4 linked regions of the Homo sapiens genome follow. The protein of the gene in region 1 purifies or fractionates together with the protein of each later gene. This does not show direct contact. Each region holds a gene or a part of one and is shown in the gene's direction. Other genes may lie near its edges. The genes, in order: ZMAT3, SUPV3L1, ISCA1 and DICER1.

Region 1 (4,485 bases):
GACGGCGCCATCTGGGGGGGAGGCAGGAGACATTATGGATAAAGATTGAAGAGGGAGAGGAACATTTTGGGTCTTTTCTGAGGGAATTATAATAGAGACTATCAGTTATTTGTTAAGAAGGAGGAGGGAAATAGCCTCAAGATTGAGGAACTGGAATTATACTGTGGCTTATGGTGGTGTGATCCATTACTCCATTGGACATTTCCTTGATACCTTATTTTGTGTAGGTAATTTACCTAGAGAAGGAGGAAAAATTTGGGTTTTACAGGGGCTGATGAATATAATCTAAGGCTGTATGAGGCAGGGCTGTAAACTCAAGAGCTCACAGAGAACAGGCAAGTAACAAGTACAGGCAGCAGCTGAGTGGGGACTGAGGTGTCCCAGAGAAGGCAGGCCTCGCTAGAGGGCACAGTGCCTCTGAGCACTAACTAGCTAATTGCGTCCCATATAGGAATGTGGGCCAAGTGATGCCAGATCATCCTTTTTCAAGAGAAGCCATGAATCTCTTGATTTTTAAATGCTAACAACTAATTCGACTTAAAAAAATGAAAACAAAACTGTATATTCCAAACAGCACATCTGTGGCTGTATGTGGCCCACAGGCTGTTTGCCACCTCTGCTATACATTTGCTCAACTACTTAAATATTGCTAGTTGATCAGAAGGAACATATTTTATTTATTTCTGTCATACTTTAGGCTACTCCTAGAGTTCCCTGAAATTTTAGCTAGTTCTATAAGTGCTTTAAGAATTCTGCAAGATGATATTCTTTTATACACTCTTTTTGATATTGGTTGGTTGGAAGATATGTTTGCTAAGATTTTTAGCTGGTGGTCTTTTTTTTTTTTGAGTCACAGTCTTGCTCTGTCACCCAGGCTGGAGTGCAATGGCACGATCTCGGCTCACGACCACCTCTGCCTCCCCGGTTCAAGCGATTCTCCTGCCTCAGCCTCCTGAGTAGCTGGGATTACAGGCACTCGCCACCACACCTGGCTAATTTTTGTATTTTTAGTAGAGACGGGGTTTCACCATGTTGTCTTGAACAGGCTGGTCTCGAACTCCTGACCTCAGGTGATCTGCCCACCTTGGCCTCCCAAAATGCTGGGATTACAGGCGTGAGCCACCACACCTGGACAGCTCGTGGTGTTTTTGTCTGTGCATGATTATCATTAAGAGTGTTTAAGTGTAAGTGTGCCTGAGGGAAGGGGTCTGGACTAGGTGACATTTGATGTCCATTTCAGCCATGTGACTTTTAGATTTAGCCGTGGATGCAATGCTGTTAATGTTCACGGGCCAAAGGGATAGCAGTTGGAACTGTGCCAAGCAAAATAAAGCCAAATCTATAAAGCCATTCTCAGTGGAAGAGCACCGTGTTAACATGAATTAACAGGCAGGGGAAGTCTGCTAAATGAGGCCAAAGGAAAGAAGTCCCAAAGATGGGTTTGGAGAAGTAGAAGAAAGGGTCAGATTATGTTGTCATTTACATGTTATCTTGCTGAAGTCTGATTTTCAAGTGAGTTTTTTTTTCTGTTTTTTTGCTGTTGATTCAGATTTGAAGACCTTGCTTCTCATCACCCACTGGATTATGCCCCAGGCTTCCCTACCCAATGATCCTCTTGCAACACGCCGTGCTTCCTCCACCTAAGCAGCCCTCACCCTCGCCTCCTATGTCAGTGGCCACCAGGTCTACAGGAACCTTGCAGCTTCCACCACAGAAGCCTTTTGGGCAGGAGGCTTCCTTGCCTCTTGCAGGGGAAGAAGAGTTATCGAAGGGAGGGGAGCAAGACTGTGCCCTGGAGGAGCTATGTAAGCCCCTGTACTGCAAACTCTGCAATGTCACCTTGAACTCTGCACAGCAAGCCCAGGCTCATTATCAGGTAAAGGGAGAAAAGAAAACCAGGCATTGAGTAGGGTGAACATTTCAGGGCTCTGGCTATTTAGCAGTTGTCTCTCCAGATATGACTGTGCCTGGAATACCAAGATGGCTTAGAGAACAACTAACTATGAATTTGTTTGATTAAAAGCCTTATGTTTTTACTTTAAAAATAAGTATCACTTTTTGTAGACTGGATCTCAACCTGTTACACTAAGCTGTGTGGCATGCGATAGCTTACCAGTCTTTGTAGGCAAATGTAAATGATCTATGCTGGCATCTGAACCTGTAGTCTTAAGAAGAACAAGTATTTAAACCACTATTTACCAGCCTGGGTGACAGAGCGAGACTTTGTCTCAGACAAACAAAAAAACCCATGATGTACCGAACTCAATTCAGTGTAAAATTGTTTAGAAGCTAATATAATTTGCATCATTTCGAGGTGACCTCTGTGCATGACTCTTATGCTTTCCATTTTTGACTTCTAACTCTTATATATCCTATCACTGGTAAGGAAAACACAGGTATCTTTTTGTGGTGAGAATAAAATGACATTGCAATATTGAGCCCTATCCTTCATTCATAATAAACATACTCTGATTTATTTTAGCCCATTAGCGTAAACTAATACTGGTTTTTAAGATTTAAAGCTTTCACCTCCATGTTGAATAGCTAGTGGAAAGGACCATTTTAAAGGGTAATATTACCTAAGAACAAATGGAAAATTAAACTTTGGTTAGCAAGAGACGGTACAATATTTCTTTTTATTCTAGACATTTGTCTGTATAAAGTTAAATAATTTCCTTTTTTGGAGAAAAGAGACCTGGGAGATAATCAAGGACAAAACCCAGTGAATGATGTCTTCCCGGGTCATCACTGATTTGATTATTTATTATCTGCTTGAAAATCTCTAGTAATAAGAGAGTATGGTAGAAGACTGTTACACAGGTGTTTCTTCTGTTGTGCACTATAACTTTCTCCACTTTGTTTACTGTGGGTGTTAAGTCTTTTCTGTTTTGTTTTGATCCCAAAGACTGATTATTGTGTTGCTTTTTGATTGTATGTCGGAAGTATTTTGATGGTCAATTGTTTTCTCTGGTATTTAGGGGAAGACATAATATGTTGCCTCCTTTAAGTTCCCATTATGTGGTTTTGTTTTGCCCTCAGGTGCAGAGAGTTGAGTTAATTATATCTCGCAGCTCTTGACATGTGTCATCATTGGTTCCTAAAGGCCTCTTCTGGTTTTATTTTTACGTTTTCCCCCTTTCCCCAGTACGTACTCTCATCACCTTGCTGTCCAGTACAGTTGTTTGATACAGGGTCTTCCTTTGCCTGTCTTTACCATTCAAGCAGAGTCTGTTAGCATGATTAATCTCAACTCCAAGACTGTATTAGCTTTCTTCATTTATTCCTACGGAATGTTCAGTTTTATAGCCTAAGACTCACTTTGAAAAAAGAAGCCAGGGTTCTAAAGGTTTAATTATTAGCCATATAAAGCCCCTAACAAATCATTAACTTGGGGGCAAACCCACTTGTATGCTATACACATATATAATTATCTTTATTTATTTATTTTTTTTTGAGACAGAGTCTCGCTCTGTTGCCCAGGCTGGAGTGCAGTGGCGCGATCTTGGCTCACTGCAGCCCCTGTCTCCGGGGTTCAAGCGATTCTCATGCCTCACCCTCTCGAGTAGCTGGGATTACAGGCACACACCAGCACACCCAGCTAATTTTTGTATTTTTGGTAGAGATGGAGGTTTGCCATGTTGGCTAGATTCAGCCTCCCAAAGCGCTGGGATTACAGGCGTGAGTGACCTACCGCACCCAGCCTATAATTCCCTTTTAAGGAAGAGTTGTTTACTTTTATGAGGGAAAACTCTCGGGCAGTGTGTAATTTTAACATGTCCATGGATTATACATATACCTTATTTCTTTTTTTCTCCTAATAAAACTTTTTGACTTCATGGACTTTGAAAGGTGCTACTGATGATACATAGAGAAGATTCAGTTTGATGCAAGGTCTTTGGATTATAAGGCTAAAACTAGATAAGCAGAATCAACATTTGTTTTTTTCTTTTATTTTACATTTTTGCGTATGTTCTAAACTATGTAGTTGACAAGATTAGTAATTATACTTAATTTCAGTTTCCTCAGTGATACAGTGAATAAATAAATTAGAAAATATAAGAAAAGGGAAATACAATTTAGGTAAATTTCTCAAAAATCAGAATTTTTAAGTGGAAAGGTTGAAGGAGAACAGGATGTAATGGGACAATTTAAGCAGCTAAAAACCAGGGTAAAGATGGGAAAGAAAAGAGGCAAGCAAGTAATCAGAAAGTAGGAGCTTACAGAAAATGAAAAGTTTGGGTATAATAAAGTATATTGCTAAGACTTCAGAAGCAAAGATTCGAATGAGACTGATGTTATTGGTAACTCTTAAAGAGAGAAGGTTTTAACAGACAACTAAGGCAAAGCAGTTCATGTGTAAAAATACAGAGCAATTATGTTAGGGTAACATAGAAGAAAGGTAATCTTAGAAGTGAAATCTGGATTTCAATAAGATAGAAATGGTCAAGATGAGAGTGGATAGTGCAAAGTGTAGATCAGAATAAT
Region 2 (4,485 bases), on another chromosome or scaffold:
CATTCATTTCCCTCATTCTCCACTGCAACCAGCTTAGTCTAAATTGCCAGCTTCCATCTTTTGACTGGACTGCACATATAGCCCCTTATGTGTCTCCTCATATGCCTTTGATCCCTTCATTCTATTCTCTACCTGCAGTCAGAATGTTCTTTTAAAAAGACTAGGCTGGGCGCAGTGTCTCGTGCCTGCAATCCCAGCACTTTGGGAGGCCCAGGAGGGTGGATCGCTTGAGCCCAGGAGCTCAAGACGAGCTTGGGCAACATGGCAAAACTCCATCTCTACAAAAAATACAGAAATTAGCCAGGCATGATGGTGTGTGCCTGTAGTTCCAGCTACTTGGGAGGCTGAGGTGGGAGGGTTGCTTGAGCTTGGGTAGTAGTAGAGGTTGCAGTGAGCCGAGATTGCACCACCACACTCCAGCCTGGGTGACAAGAGTGAGACCCTGTCTCAAATAAAAAAAGAAAGATACAATTTTAATTTACATACTAGAAAGCTCACCCTTTAAAAGTGTATAATTCACTGGGTTTTAGTGTATTTGCAGGATTGTACAATCATCACCATAATTTCATTTTAGAACATTTTTATCACCCTAAAAAGAAACCTGATATCTGTTAGCAAGTCACTCTCTAGTTCCCCAGTCCCCAGTGTCTTTTTTTTTTTTTTAGCTCCAGATAACCACTAATCCACATTCTGTCTGTTGATTTGCCTGTTTTGTGTATTTCATATTTATAGTGTCATATAGTATTGGTCTTTTGTAACTGGTTTCTTTTACTTAGCATAATGAGAAATTTCACATTTTGGAAGCATTTTAATTTGAGTAAAGCAGCATGAATCTTATATAACACCGTAGTATTAGTCACAGAAAATAGGTTAATTCTAAATAAATGTGATCTGTCTTTAGTTTGTATCGAGTTTATAGGTCAGCAGAATTTTCCCAAGCAATGATGGCATGTGCCTTTTTCCAATCTTTTATTTGTCATTGGTTTTTCTACCCTTGATACCAAGAAACTGTTGGCCAGGTGCAGTGGCTCACGCCTGTAATCCCAGCACTTTGGGAGGCTGAGGCTGGCAGATCACCTGAGGTCAGGAGTTCGAGACCGGCCTGACCAACATGGAGAAACCCTGTCTCTACTAAAAATACAAAATTAGTCGGGCATGGTGCATGGTGATGCATGCCTGTAATCCCAGCTACTTGGGAGGCTGAGGCAGGAGAATCTCTTGAGCCCGAAAGGCGGAGGTTGCAGTGAGCTGAGATCGCGCCATTGCCCTCCAGCCTGGGCAACAAGAGTGAAACACTGTCTCCAAGAAAAAAAGAAACTGTTGTTCCTACCCGGCACAAAGTAACAGAGACCCAGAAATCTGCCTGTGATCTGAAATATAAATACACACACACACACACACACACACACACACACACACTGTGTGTGTATGTGTATCTCATATTTAATTGTGGGCAGATCTAGTGATTCTGAAATTTCCTCATTCTGTCAAACAGTTTTATTAGTGGAATGCTTTGTTCAGGCTTGATTTCTTCAATGAGTGTTGTGTGTGTTGGACTGTGTGAAAATGTGGTTGGCACATTTGTGAAAGGTAAAAATACAGGTCACTTGGCCTTTCTGAATTTCATGGGTAAAGGCTGTGTCCTCATTGTGGCTTCTCCTCCTAGAAATACATAGTGTGTGACTGAGTCAGTAAAATGTTTATTGAATAATGCTGTAGTATTTTAACATATACAACCATAATACAATCTCAGCTTGATTAGTTTAAAATACTTTTACCTCTAAGATTATTGATTCATAGTGGCATGTTATCTCCCAATAGCATAGACATTTCTCTGCCGTCACCCTTGACAGTCATCTAACCCTTGCTTGAGTAATTCCATTGGCAAGGAGCTCTCACTTTTCACTGTTCTAATTGTTAGGAAGTTCTTGTATAAATTCCACTGAAATCTGCTCCCACTGACTTTAGTTATGCCATCTAGCACAAAACAAGTGTAATCTTTTATCCCTGAAATCATCATCCTCAAACTTAACATCAGCGTGGCTTCCTTAAGCATGAGGATCTGGTCCTTGCTATATTGGTTGTCTTTCTGGATGTGTTTTAGCTGCTCACTGTTTGGATGTGCAGAATCGTTATAAGTGAATGACAGTGTGGCTCTCTACCTATAAGTGGCCTGGTGAAGGCTTGAGGCTGCCTCTCATCCCAGAGTGCATTGCTCATTCCTCTATGGTATAACAGGGTGCTGCATTATTTGACTCGATCATTTTTCTCTTTTTTTTTTTTTTTGAGACGGAGACTCGCTCTGTCTCCTAGGCTGGAGTGCAGTGGGCCCATCTCGGCTCACTGCAAGCTCCGCCTCCCGGGTTCATGCCATTCTCCTGCCTCAGCCTCCTGGGTAGCTGGGACTACAGGCGCCCAATAACAGGCCCAGCTAATTTTTGTATTTTTAGTAGAGACGGGGTTTCACCATGTTAGCCAGGATGGTCTCTATCTCCTGACCTCGTGATCCGCCCACCTCAGCCTCCCAAAGTGCTGGGATTACAGGCGTGAGCCACCGTGCCCGGCCAACTCGATCATTTTTCTTAACACTCCCATCGCATATGAATTCATAAAGAAGGATCGACTAAAACCTTCTAGTTCTTGCAACACTCATTAGACTGCTGCCTTTAGTGTTATTGCTTCAAGTTTCTTTTGCTTTTTTTCAGCATTTATCTAAGATAAGGAAACGTTAAATTTTGACATCTCTCTTCTAGATGAAGTAAAGAAGGTCTTAGACAAATTTTACAAGAGGAAAGAAATTCAGAAACTGGGTGCTGATTATGGACTTGATGGTAAGGCCCAAAACATCTTCATAGAGGTATTTTATTACCTCTTACGGTACAGCTTGGTCAGGACTGTACGACCCCTCATGTGACCTGGCTGTTGTAGTCTGGAGACACGTCCCTGCTCTTTGCTTCTGGCTGAGTGGGAGACTGGCGAGGCTCACCTGGTGAGCCATACTGCACGGCAGAGGAGCTGCAGCTGCGGCCTTCCTTCATGCTGTGCTAGGACTTCAGTTTTAGCCCAGATCATAATAAACCAGCTGTACTGCCAAAAAAAAAAAAAAAAAAAGAAAAAAAAAGACTCTTTGATGAGTTTGGTGTGGTGTGTCTGTGTGCTTTTTAAAATGAGAACTACACCTTACATCTTTTCATTTTGTGTTTCTACAGCTCGTCTCTTCCACCAAGCTTTCATAAGCTTTAGAAATTATATTATGCAGTCTCATTCCCTGGATGTGGACATTCACATTGTTTTGAATGATATTTGCTTCGGTGCAGGCAAGTGTTTAGAGACTTTTTAAAATCCTATTGAACATACCTTCTATTTCTTCTCATACTTCATGCTCATTTCTCTAGAAGGGCTTATTTGGTTTAGAGTGGGTCTGGTAACATCCTCTGTAAATAATTCAGTGCTTTCACAGGATGACTTCTAGGTTGTTTGCTTTTATATTGGGTCCCTGAGCTGGTTATTACATCACCCATATGTCTTAGACTGGAGGAAGACTGGGGCCCAGTGAAATAAGCTCTCACACAAGTTGGAATTAGTGCATAGCAGATTCCATCTGTTTTTGCCACTGGCTTCCTTCTCCCTCATATCAGGACAAAGTTCTTGCTATAAAAGAAAAAAAAAAAGTCAAAATATCATAGTTTCATTCCCACAGGCAGTTTGGCTTTGGTTATGTATTTGACTCTTAGACCTGTACCTTGTGCCCAGCACTGAGGATACAACGCAGAATGGGACATGCCCCAGCCTCCTCTCAGAGCCACTAAGATGTGGAGAATTCTTGCTGAGGAACAAACACATGTTTTTGCCTGTCTGTGGTTTTCGAAGTTTAAAAAATGTTTGCGCCTTCATCTCTGTAATGTACATGTCTAGGTTCTTTATTTTTAATTTAACTTTTGCCAATGCTAATCTTTGCCTGTTTGTACTAAAGGAGTAGGACGTGGTGGTTGCTAGCCAATTTCCTGAAAATATAAATTAAAAGGAAAAAGTAAGACAAAACAGGATCCCAGAAAAGGATAAGGCCTGTAACCTCAGGACTTTTCTACTTTTTTTTTTCTTTTCTTCCTTTTTTTTTTTTTTTTTTTTTTTTTGTGACACGGTCTCACTCTGTCACCCAGGCTCTGGAGTGCAGTGGCTCAGTCTCAGCTCAGTGTGTAGCCTCAACCTCCTGGGCTCAAGCCATCCTTCCAGGTCAGCTTTCCAAAGTGGTGGGATTGTTGACGTGAGCTACTGTGCCCAGAGAGGACTTTTCTTTTTACCCTGGCAGTGCCCCCGCAACTTAGCTTGTTAAGAAAAAAGATTTCACTAAATTTAGTTACGAATTTTATGTAGATTGCACATGTTAATACAGTGTTTTATTTTCCAGCTCATGCGGATGATTTATTCCCATTTTTCTTGAGACATGCCAAACAAATATTTCCTGTGTTGGACTGTAAGGATGAT
Region 3 (4,485 bases), on another chromosome or scaffold:
TTGGCTGACCTCAAGTGATACTTCCACCTCGGCCTCCCAAAGTGTTGGGAATATAGGCATGAGGCACCAGGCCCAGCCAGGCTATGCCTTTTTAAAATAAACTTACAGAAAGCTATTTTTATTTGACAGTAAGTGATTAATTTCTTCAGCATGCACATAGGAAAATATGGTGAAAATTTACATGTGGTTGATAAGAAAGCTAGCTTTTATTGACAATCACTTAGAACAGGGGTCCCCAGTCCCTGCGCTACAGACTGGTACTGGTCCATGGCCTGTTAGGAACAGGGCCTCACAGCAGGAGGTGAGAGCAGCAGGCAAGCCAAGCATTACCACCTAAGCGAGCTCCACCTCCTGTCAGATCATCAGGGGCATTAGATTCTCATAGGAGCACAAACCCTAGTCTGAACTGCAGGTGTGAGGGGCTAGTTTGTGCACTCCTTATGAGAATGATGCCTGATGATCTGTCACTGTCTCTCATCACCCCTAGATGGGGCCATCTAGTTGCAGAAAAACAAGCTCAGGGCTCCCACTGATTGTATATTTTGATGAGTTATATAATTATTTCATTATATATTACAATGTAATAATAGAAATAAAGTGCACAATAAATGTAATGCATTTGAATCATTCAGAAACCATTCCCCTTATCCGTGGAAAAATTGTCTTCCACGAAACCAGTCCTTGATGCCAAAAACATTTGGGACCACTGCTTTAGAAGGGTAATGAGCACTTTAAAAAATAATAACTATTTCTGTAACTATTTAAAGTTGGTATTCTGTGACTCAAAAAACAAAAACAAAACCATAATCCTGCTCTTCCCTGTTTTCTCCTTCCACCCTGTGTGCTACTTCCTGCGTTGGAGGACTGCATGCCTCCTTTTCTGACAGAACCATGGGAAACCATGGGCCTTTAGAGGCCCACCTACTGGTAGTGGTTTGTTTTTTTACAGTGACATGTAATAAGAAATGTATATACACAGATACTATATATTAATAACTGAATTAAAAGTTTTACTAAACAACATTCACGTTTTTAAGTGCAGTGCATTGTTTTCTATTTAAAATGTTTAAGACATGTTGGTCTTCACATTCCAAATTGCTTTCATGCCCTTCTAAACTGGGTCTGTACTGTGTTTAAGCATGCTCATCTAGCTGAGCCCCAACCCCGACAGGGCAGGAGAGCACACTCTAGGGCCATCCATTGGGCTGGCTCTTCCAGGTGTCAGTCCTGGCCTCAGTTTACTACCAAGTCTTAGGTCGTAATATCCAGACTTTGAGACTTCACAAGCAGTCTCAAAGACTTTACTGTACAGTAAAATGTCAGTACAAGGGACTGGAGGGCCTGCAGAGCACTGCCAGCTAGAGGAGCTGATAAAGTAGGAAGGACGCACATAATGTCTTCATTATGATGTACTCTCATAATCATAATAATACTTGGTATTTTTGTGCCTGGCACTGTCCTGAATGCTTTCCATGAGTTTAAATATTTAATCCTCACAAGAATCAGGAGGAGGAGGAACTGTTATCCCTGTTTCACCAGTAAGGGAATAGAAGTCAGAGAAGCCACTTAGGGTGACTGCCCTGGAGGCACAGCTAGGAAGTGGGCCAGGAATGTCGGGGAACAGTCTCCTTCCCAAAGAAGTGGGGTTGGCAACACCGACCTATTTCACACAAACTGTGATGTTTTTCTCATTTTGAGGCCCGCTGAGCTATGTTAAAACAGCATTTCTCTGGGAAACAGCTCCTCCTTGTTCTTATTTCTGTCATTGACTAGCTTAGTTTTGTTCATCTAGATCTCCTGAGATGTTGGTTTAATCCACGTTGAAAAAAATCTATGTGAGCATTTGGTGGGACTGGTGCAAGAAGCACACCCTGGGTTATTTTATGCTGGTAACACTGTTTCCTCAAGCTATGCATTTTGATGGATTAGAAATGGATTGTGAGTAAGAAAAAAAAAAGCAGTAGGATTAATAATCAACAGGAAAAACACCTGAAGGTTGGCCTTCCCAGTGAGATACTTGATTCCTTCATTGGCTCTTTGTCGTAGGCAACATGCTGGTTCCTGGGCATAGAGTTGGTGCACAAAATAGATGCTGCCCAGAAAAATAGCATTTGTAATGTGAGTGAATAGCACCATAGAGAGAAGGACAGGGAACCAACCTGGACTGAGGAGCAAGATTAAAAGGATGTTGCTAGCAGATTTTTTTTTTAAATAAAGAGGATATTTTGAATTAGGTATAGTTTATGTGTTTCTATATAAAGTCCATAAGGTACCCTGGCAAGAATGGAACATAAATTTGTCACATGAATTTGCTAAAGACAGACTTACGAAGACTGATAAATATGAGGCTTTGAATAACAAGTTTTGTAGCTAAAAACATCATTTTCTTTTTTCAGACACCTTCAGCAGTAAACAAGATAAAACAACTTCTTAAAGATAAGCCTGAGCATGTAAGTAAAACCAGTTAATTATTCAGTAAAAAACTGAAGCTGCATTTTCAGAATGAATTTATCCCATGATATACAGTATTATTTCATTTAGGGGTTTTTATTTAAAATGTAAAATATACTCAGGATTTTTAAAAAATTCAAATAATACAAAAGGGTATTTAACTAAAAGGAAGTCATTCTTTCAACCTGACTCTTCGTCGTCATTCTTCCTTCCAAGAAGCAATCTCTTTGGTATCCTTCCAGGGATAATGTATACATTTGAAGCGGCTAGACCTGATTTTCTCAGCCTCCTCACAGTTGACACTTTAGGGCAGATTGTAGAATGTTTGACAGCATCTGTGGCCTCTGTCCATTAGATACCAGTAGTACCCCCTCTTTGCCTCAACCAAAGAATCCACATATGTGGAACCCACCGATACGGAGAGGTGACTGTATAGAGTAAAAGTATGGTGAGTACTATTTCACCAGCAGTTCCTGATTCCACAAAGCTTTGGTTGTCACAACCAAAAATGTCTCCCTGAGGGCAACCACTGGCCTAGACTGGGCTTGTTATTCCTGTGTATATCTCTTCCTACCATAAATTTTTTTGTTACACTTTGCTTTTTACCCTTAATAATGGCTTGAAGATCTTTCCATGTCATTATGTAATGATCTGCCTCCCTTTCTTGGCTGCATGTAGAGTATATTCCATTGAACAAGTTTGAGTTCTTTAACCAGTCCCCATATTAAAGGGTCGTTTTCATTCAGTGCTGCCGCAAACACCATTCAGCAACTATTTAGTGTCTGCAGTGTGCCAGGCTCATTGTTCTAGAACTGTAAGCATGGCTTAGTCCACCTACATAGGATCCATTCCTAGATACAGAATTGTTGAGTTAGGGATGTGTGTATCATCTTAATTGTACATTGTTAGTTGCCGATGGAATGCTGTAAATCATTTCAAGTAATGGATTGCAATATTTAATAATTAGACGGTGGGGTGATTTCTGGTTTCTGTTGTTAACCTACTACATTACAATGTAATGGAAGTTCTCAAACCTACCTTTTAAAATTATTAAATTTCAAAGGATATCAGTGTTCTGATTCAATTTGGATAGACCGATGAGTAGACTACAAATTGGCCTAATGAAACAAGAATTCGGCTTTGTAGAATCAGGAACTGCTGGTGAAATAGTACTTATGATACTTTTGCTGTATACAGTCACCTCTCCGTATCTGTGGGTTCCGCATACGTGGATTCAATCAACCATAGGTCAGAAATATTTGGGAAAAAAATAGAAGGTTGCATCTGTATTAAACATGTACAGACTTTCATTCTCTAAACAATACAGTATAACAACTGTTTATGTAGCATTACATTGTTACAGGTATTCAAGTCCTCCAGAAGTTATTTAAAGTACAGGGGAAGATGTATATAGGTTATATACAAATGCAGTGCCATTTGCATAAGGGACTTGAGTATCTGCAGATTTTTGTATACTCAGTTAGTCCTGGAACCAATTTCCCATGCATACTAAGGGATGACTGTATTTAAATGAAAAATCAGCTCAGCTCTAAGACAGAGAACTTAGGTAGATACTGTTTGAAAATTGCATTAATGTAAACATTGATACTTTTAAAGTGCTGTTTGGTCACTTTTTTAAACTTCTTTTGTCTGTATTGACTGCAGTCTTTTGCTTTCTGGTATTTGAGACTGTACACAAGTCTGCACTATAATTCAGATCCCATGTAGAGGTAGGATTGCCAGATGGTGGACTATGAACCCTGGTGAATCCTAACCATAAGGAAACATTCAGAGGATATCTCACAGAACAAGGTAGAGCAAAGACATTTTAAATAAAGTCCCAGGCTGGACGGGGTGGCTCCTGCCTTGTAATCCCAATGCTTTGAGAGGCCGAGGTGGAAGCGTTATTTGAGTCCACGAGTTTGAGACCAGTCTGGGCTACATAGTGAGACCCTGTCCTACAAAAAATAAGAGAAAGTCCATTTTGGTACGAGGAGGCTACTGTCACTTTATTAGTATAATTGTTTAATCTGT
Region 4 (4,485 bases), on another chromosome or scaffold:
ACTTTGCAGAGTTAAATATTAATGTTTTATCATAGCTTTGTAGGGATGCTTAAGAGCAAGTGTTTGGCGTCAGAGAGACCAGGGTTCAAATCCTGATTCTTCGACTTTATAGCCGATGAGCACTGGGCATATGGCAACGTCTCTTGAGTCTCAGCTTCCTTGTCTATAAACTGTCGTAGTGGTGTTTGCCTCTTGAGGTTTTGAGAAAAAAAAGGAGTTTCTTAAACTCTCATGGTACATAACTAGCATTTGATAAAATTAATGTAATATTTTTCTTTTAAATACGTGTATTAGAGAAAATTTTAACATGCAATAGTCTTAATGTGATTAGATTATATTGTGAGCCCCCAAATTATCAATATTGAAATGTATGGTCTAGTAATATAATGGAGGATGAAGGAAAAGAGGGCTTGAGAACAATATTTTACAGACAAGTTTTCGAGGAGGATTATCTATACTGGTTCAGCTATCTTAGTTGGTCTCTGTAGTAGTGATACCAAATGTAACAGTGCCTTAAACGTCTCTTAACTTTCCCTAAATAACACATTCTTCATCTGCTATGCATGAATTAACACATCATCCTTGAAATCATACTTCAATTCAGTGTATAAAGCCAAGTGTTTTGTAAAATAAACCTCAAGTTAGGTTTTATGTTTCCTTATGATTAGATTCAGGTTTCAGCTGGGCACAGTGGCTCACTCCTGTAATCTCAGCACTTTAGGAGGCCAAGGCAGGAGGATCTCTAGAACCTAAGAGTTTGAGGTAGCAGTGAGCTATAATTGTGCCACTGCACTCCAGTCTGGGCAACAGAGCGAGACTCTGTTCCCCTCTTTCCCCCGGCAAAAATAGATTCAAGTTTTGTACTTTCAGTAGGAAAACTACATTAGGTATGTGTTGTCAGTTTGTCCTAATACTGGTGATCTTAGCTTTGTCACTTGGATTAAAGGGGTATCTATCTGGTTTTTCCACTGAATAAAAATACTAGTTTTCATTTGTAATTAGTAGGTAATCTGCAGAAAAGCTTTCAGGCTATGTAAATATTCTTTAGTAACCTTCACCCAATGGTTTTAGCATCCATTAATGATCCTTGCTTCAATCACTAATGTGATGGTTAAAAATGGTGACTTTTCTGTCATTCCTTCTACATTTATTAGTTGACATTCAGTAGAGTTTCGCCTGAATTTTAAACCTAACAAAATACGATTTCTTTTTTGTTGTTGTTAATGCTGAGTCTTGCTCTGTCTCTCAGGCTGGGGTGCAGTGGCGTGATCTTAGCTTACTGCAACCTCTGGCTCCTGGGTTCAAGCGATTCTCCTGTGTCAGCCTCCTGAGTAGCTGGGACTACAGGTGCAAGCCACTATATTGAGCTAATTTTTGTATTTTTTAAGTGGAGACGGGGTTTCACCATGTTAGCCAAGCTGGTCTCGAACTCCTGACCTCAAGTGATTCACCTGTCTCTGCCTCCCAAAGTGCTGGGATTGCAGGCATGAGCCACCGTGCCCGGCCTACAAAATACAGTTTGTAAAATGAGAAACTAAGTTGAGAAATAAGACTGTCTTGAGTTGGGTTTTCCCAGTTGCACCTGTAACTTTAAGAACTTTAAAATTGTTTCTGAAACATCTTCAAGGTTGGAGTCAGATTAGTTTGCATTAATATGGAAGAGAATTTTGTAGTGGTTGGAAGTTAACTGAGAAAACTAGGATGGGTATAGTCAGATGATACCAAAATTATCATTGCACTAACTGATACCTCTCTAGCTTTGACAGTTTCTAGTTAGCCTCGAATTATTCTTTTGGACTTGGGTGCCAAGATCGAGGATGTTAAGCTTGTTGAAATAATTTGGGTTGTTTAAAGTCTTTTAATTTAAAAGTGTCTAATTTGAGTTTTATATTTGACCTATAAAAAGCTGCTTTAATTCAATAGTTAAGATCAATAAAGCTTATTCTCAACATCGAATTAATTAATAAAAAATTATTCATGGATATTTACTTTCCTACATTCCAAACTACCTAGTCATTACAAATTTACAGTAACGTGAAAATCAAACAAATCATGAACTATGTAATATGAATGTGAGTATAGTATGAGATTATCTTTCAAAGATCTTAATACTCTTGAGGGAGATGGCAATAACAGCTAATATATGGGGCAGTAATATAATGAAGCCCGTGATGATTTGGGTGTTGTAGCTAGCCCATGTGTGCTAAATGAGAGGGGAGGGGACTAAAGTGATAGAGGTTTTTAGGGAAAGTTGTGGGGTGGGGTTCGTGAGAGGTGGCGAACTCTGTTGGTACACACTTGTTTTGGTGTTACGGGAAAGGCAGATAACATGAGATGTTGCGCAGAAGCTATGATGATGTAGTGCGTCACACTCTTGCCTGGACCTTTTAATATATTTGCTTTCCTGTCTCAATAAACATCCATCTTAACTCAGTAGTCTCTTATGTTCATTTTGTCTCTGGATTGACCTCCCTTTAGTATTTAAGTATTCATGTTATATATCTTAAAACAGCTTGACAAAGAGAAAATTGTGGCTCCTTTTTCCCAATGGATGCTCTTTCTTGGTGTAAAGGTAGAGGGTAGTCGTGAATTGAATAAAATTCTAGCACTCGTTGCACAGTGTTAAGAGTAAAGTATGTGCCTGTAGTCTCAGCTGCTCAGGAGGCTGAGATGGCAGGATCACTTGAGCCCAGGAGTTCAAGGCTGTAATGTGCTCTGATGGTGCCTGTAAATAGACAGAGTGAGACCCTGTCTCCAAATAAAAAATAAAAAAAAAGAGTAAAGTACAGAAACTTGGAATCAAATATGAACCTTAAAACTCACCTTGAAAGCTAGTGATGTGTTAAGTATTTATGTCTCTTGAAACAAAACTGTAGGACAAATGTCATTATAGGTAACTTGAAGGGGAGGGGTGGGTATCTGTGCTGTTTTGATGTGTTGAAATGTCATCTTTCTGAGAAGTACTCCAAGAAGTAAGCGGACCTTTGGCTTGCAGCCTGGAGACACTTCTTATATGGAGATCTTTGATGGGTGGAATTTGTTAAGATGGTATTTGACCTGTGTTCCACTTCAATTTTGGACCAATCTAATTTTAGGCATGATTATATTGAAATCTAAACATAACATATTTATGTTAGAGATTTAGAGAAACCCAGAAATTTATTTGGTTCAGATACAGTAATGCATGAAAAGAAGGCTAATGAATTTGTGGTTTAAATTGTAGGTACTATGATACTGTAAAATATATATTTGGTCTGTCCTCTACCCTATTCTTAGGCATACAAGGCTTGAAATCCTTAGAATCTCCAAAGTGATGTGTTTTTGTATGCTAATGATCGACTGGTGGCCGGTAGCTCCTGGTAGCTTCAAAATGGGGGCTGGTTACTGGGAAGACTAAGGCATGATTAGAGGTTTGGACTCAGACCCACCCTCCAACCTCTGGGGAGGGAAGAGGGGCTGAAGGTTAATCATGCCCAGGTAATGAGTCTTCATAAAAACCCTGAAGGACAGAGTTTGGAAAGCTTCTGGATAGTTGAACACATGGAGGTTCCTGGAGGGCAGTTTGCTCTGGGAGGGCTTGGAAGCTCTATACCCCTTCTCCATACCTAACCCTGTGCATGTCTTCATCTGGATCTTTGTAATATCCTTTACCTAATTAATTTACTTATTTTTATTGAGATGGACTCTCGCTGTGTTGACCAGGCCGGTCTCGAACTGCTGGCCTCAAGCGATCCTCCCATCTTGGCCTTCCAAAGTGCTAGGATTACAGGCGTGTGCCACTGCACCCAGCCTGTAATATCCTTTATAATAAACTGGTAAACATAAGTAAGTTTTTCCCCAAGGACTGTGAGCTGGTCTAGCAAGTTAAATCCCAGGAGGGCGTTGTGGGAACCCCAGTTAACTGATTGGTCGGGAGCACGGGCAAAAAATAACCTGAGGTTTGCAATTGACACGGAAGGGTGGGGGAGGTCTTGAGGACTGGAGCCCTCAACCTGTGGGATCTGATGCTATCTCCAGGTAGATAATGTTGGAATTCAGTCATTAATAGAAGACACCCAGCTGGTGTCCGCTGCAGAATTGATGGCTTGCTTGTTGTTGGGGAGAAACCCCACACATTTGGTCACAGAAATTTTATGTGGTGTGTGAGAACAAAGGAAAAACAGTTTGTGTGTGTTTTTTCCCACTCAGATATTCAGGTAAATGTTACCACATTTTGTGCCTTAACGGGGGAGGTTTTTACTCATTAATTCATTCATTCTAGAGACAGGGTCTTACTCTGGAGTGCAGTGGTGTGATCATGGCTCACTGCAGCCCCCCAGGCTCAGGTGATTCTTCCGCCTCAGCCTCCTGAGGAGTTGGGACTACAGGCACATGCCACCACACCTGGCTAATTTTTATATTTTTAGTAGAGATGGGGTTTTGCCATGTTTCCCAGGTTGGTCTCAGAATTCCTGGGCTCACGTGATCTGCCCACCTTGGCCTCCC

The links.
Region 2: the proteins of ZMAT3 (region 1) and SUPV3L1 purify together in Homo sapiens (affinity purification with mass spectrometry; 2 studies listed by BioGRID and IntAct, with this or other methods). This does not show direct contact.
Region 3: the proteins of ZMAT3 (region 1) and ISCA1 purify together in Homo sapiens (affinity purification with mass spectrometry; 2 studies listed by BioGRID and IntAct, with this or other methods). This does not show direct contact.
Region 4: the proteins of ZMAT3 (region 1) and DICER1 purify together in Homo sapiens (affinity purification with mass spectrometry, with the first as the bait; one large-scale study listed by BioGRID). This does not show direct contact.

Annotation. Positions count from the first base shown.
Region 1 is NC_000003.12:179,064,874-179,069,358, reverse strand, and holds part of ZMAT3 (zinc finger matrin-type protein 3), read left to right. Parts: intron 1-16; exon of another isoform or gene 17-335; intron 336-1,549; 5' UTR 1,550-1,606; coding exon 1,607-1,876; intron 1,877-4,485. UniProt on the Homo sapiens protein: Acts as a bona fide target gene of p53/TP53. May play a role in the TP53-dependent growth regulatory pathway. May contribute to TP53-mediated apoptosis by regulation of TP53 expression and translocation to the nucleus and nucleolus.
Region 2 is NC_000010.11:69,183,234-69,187,718, forward strand, and holds part of SUPV3L1 (ATP-dependent RNA helicase SUPV3L1, mitochondrial), read left to right. Parts: intron 1-2,705; exon of another isoform or gene 2,706-2,753; coding exon 2,754-2,831; intron 2,832-3,209; coding exon 3,210-3,317; intron 3,318-4,160; coding exon of another isoform or gene 4,161-4,233; intron 4,234-4,408; coding exon 4,409-4,485. UniProt on the Homo sapiens protein: Major helicase player in mitochondrial RNA metabolism. Component of the mitochondrial degradosome (mtEXO) complex, that degrades 3' overhang double-stranded RNA with a 3'-to-5' directionality in an ATP-dependent manner.
Region 3 is NC_000009.12:86,272,154-86,276,638, reverse strand, and holds part of ISCA1 (iron-sulfur cluster assembly 1 homolog, mitochondrial precursor), read left to right. Parts: intron 1-2,396; coding exon 2,397-2,450; intron 2,451-4,485. UniProt on the Homo sapiens protein: Involved in the maturation of mitochondrial 4Fe-4S proteins functioning late in the iron-sulfur cluster assembly pathway. Probably involved in the binding of an intermediate of Fe/S cluster assembly.
Region 4 is NC_000014.9:95,147,223-95,151,707, reverse strand, and holds part of DICER1 (endoribonuclease Dicer), read left to right. Parts: intron 1-4,485. UniProt on the Homo sapiens protein: Double-stranded RNA (dsRNA) endoribonuclease playing a central role in short dsRNA-mediated post-transcriptional gene silencing.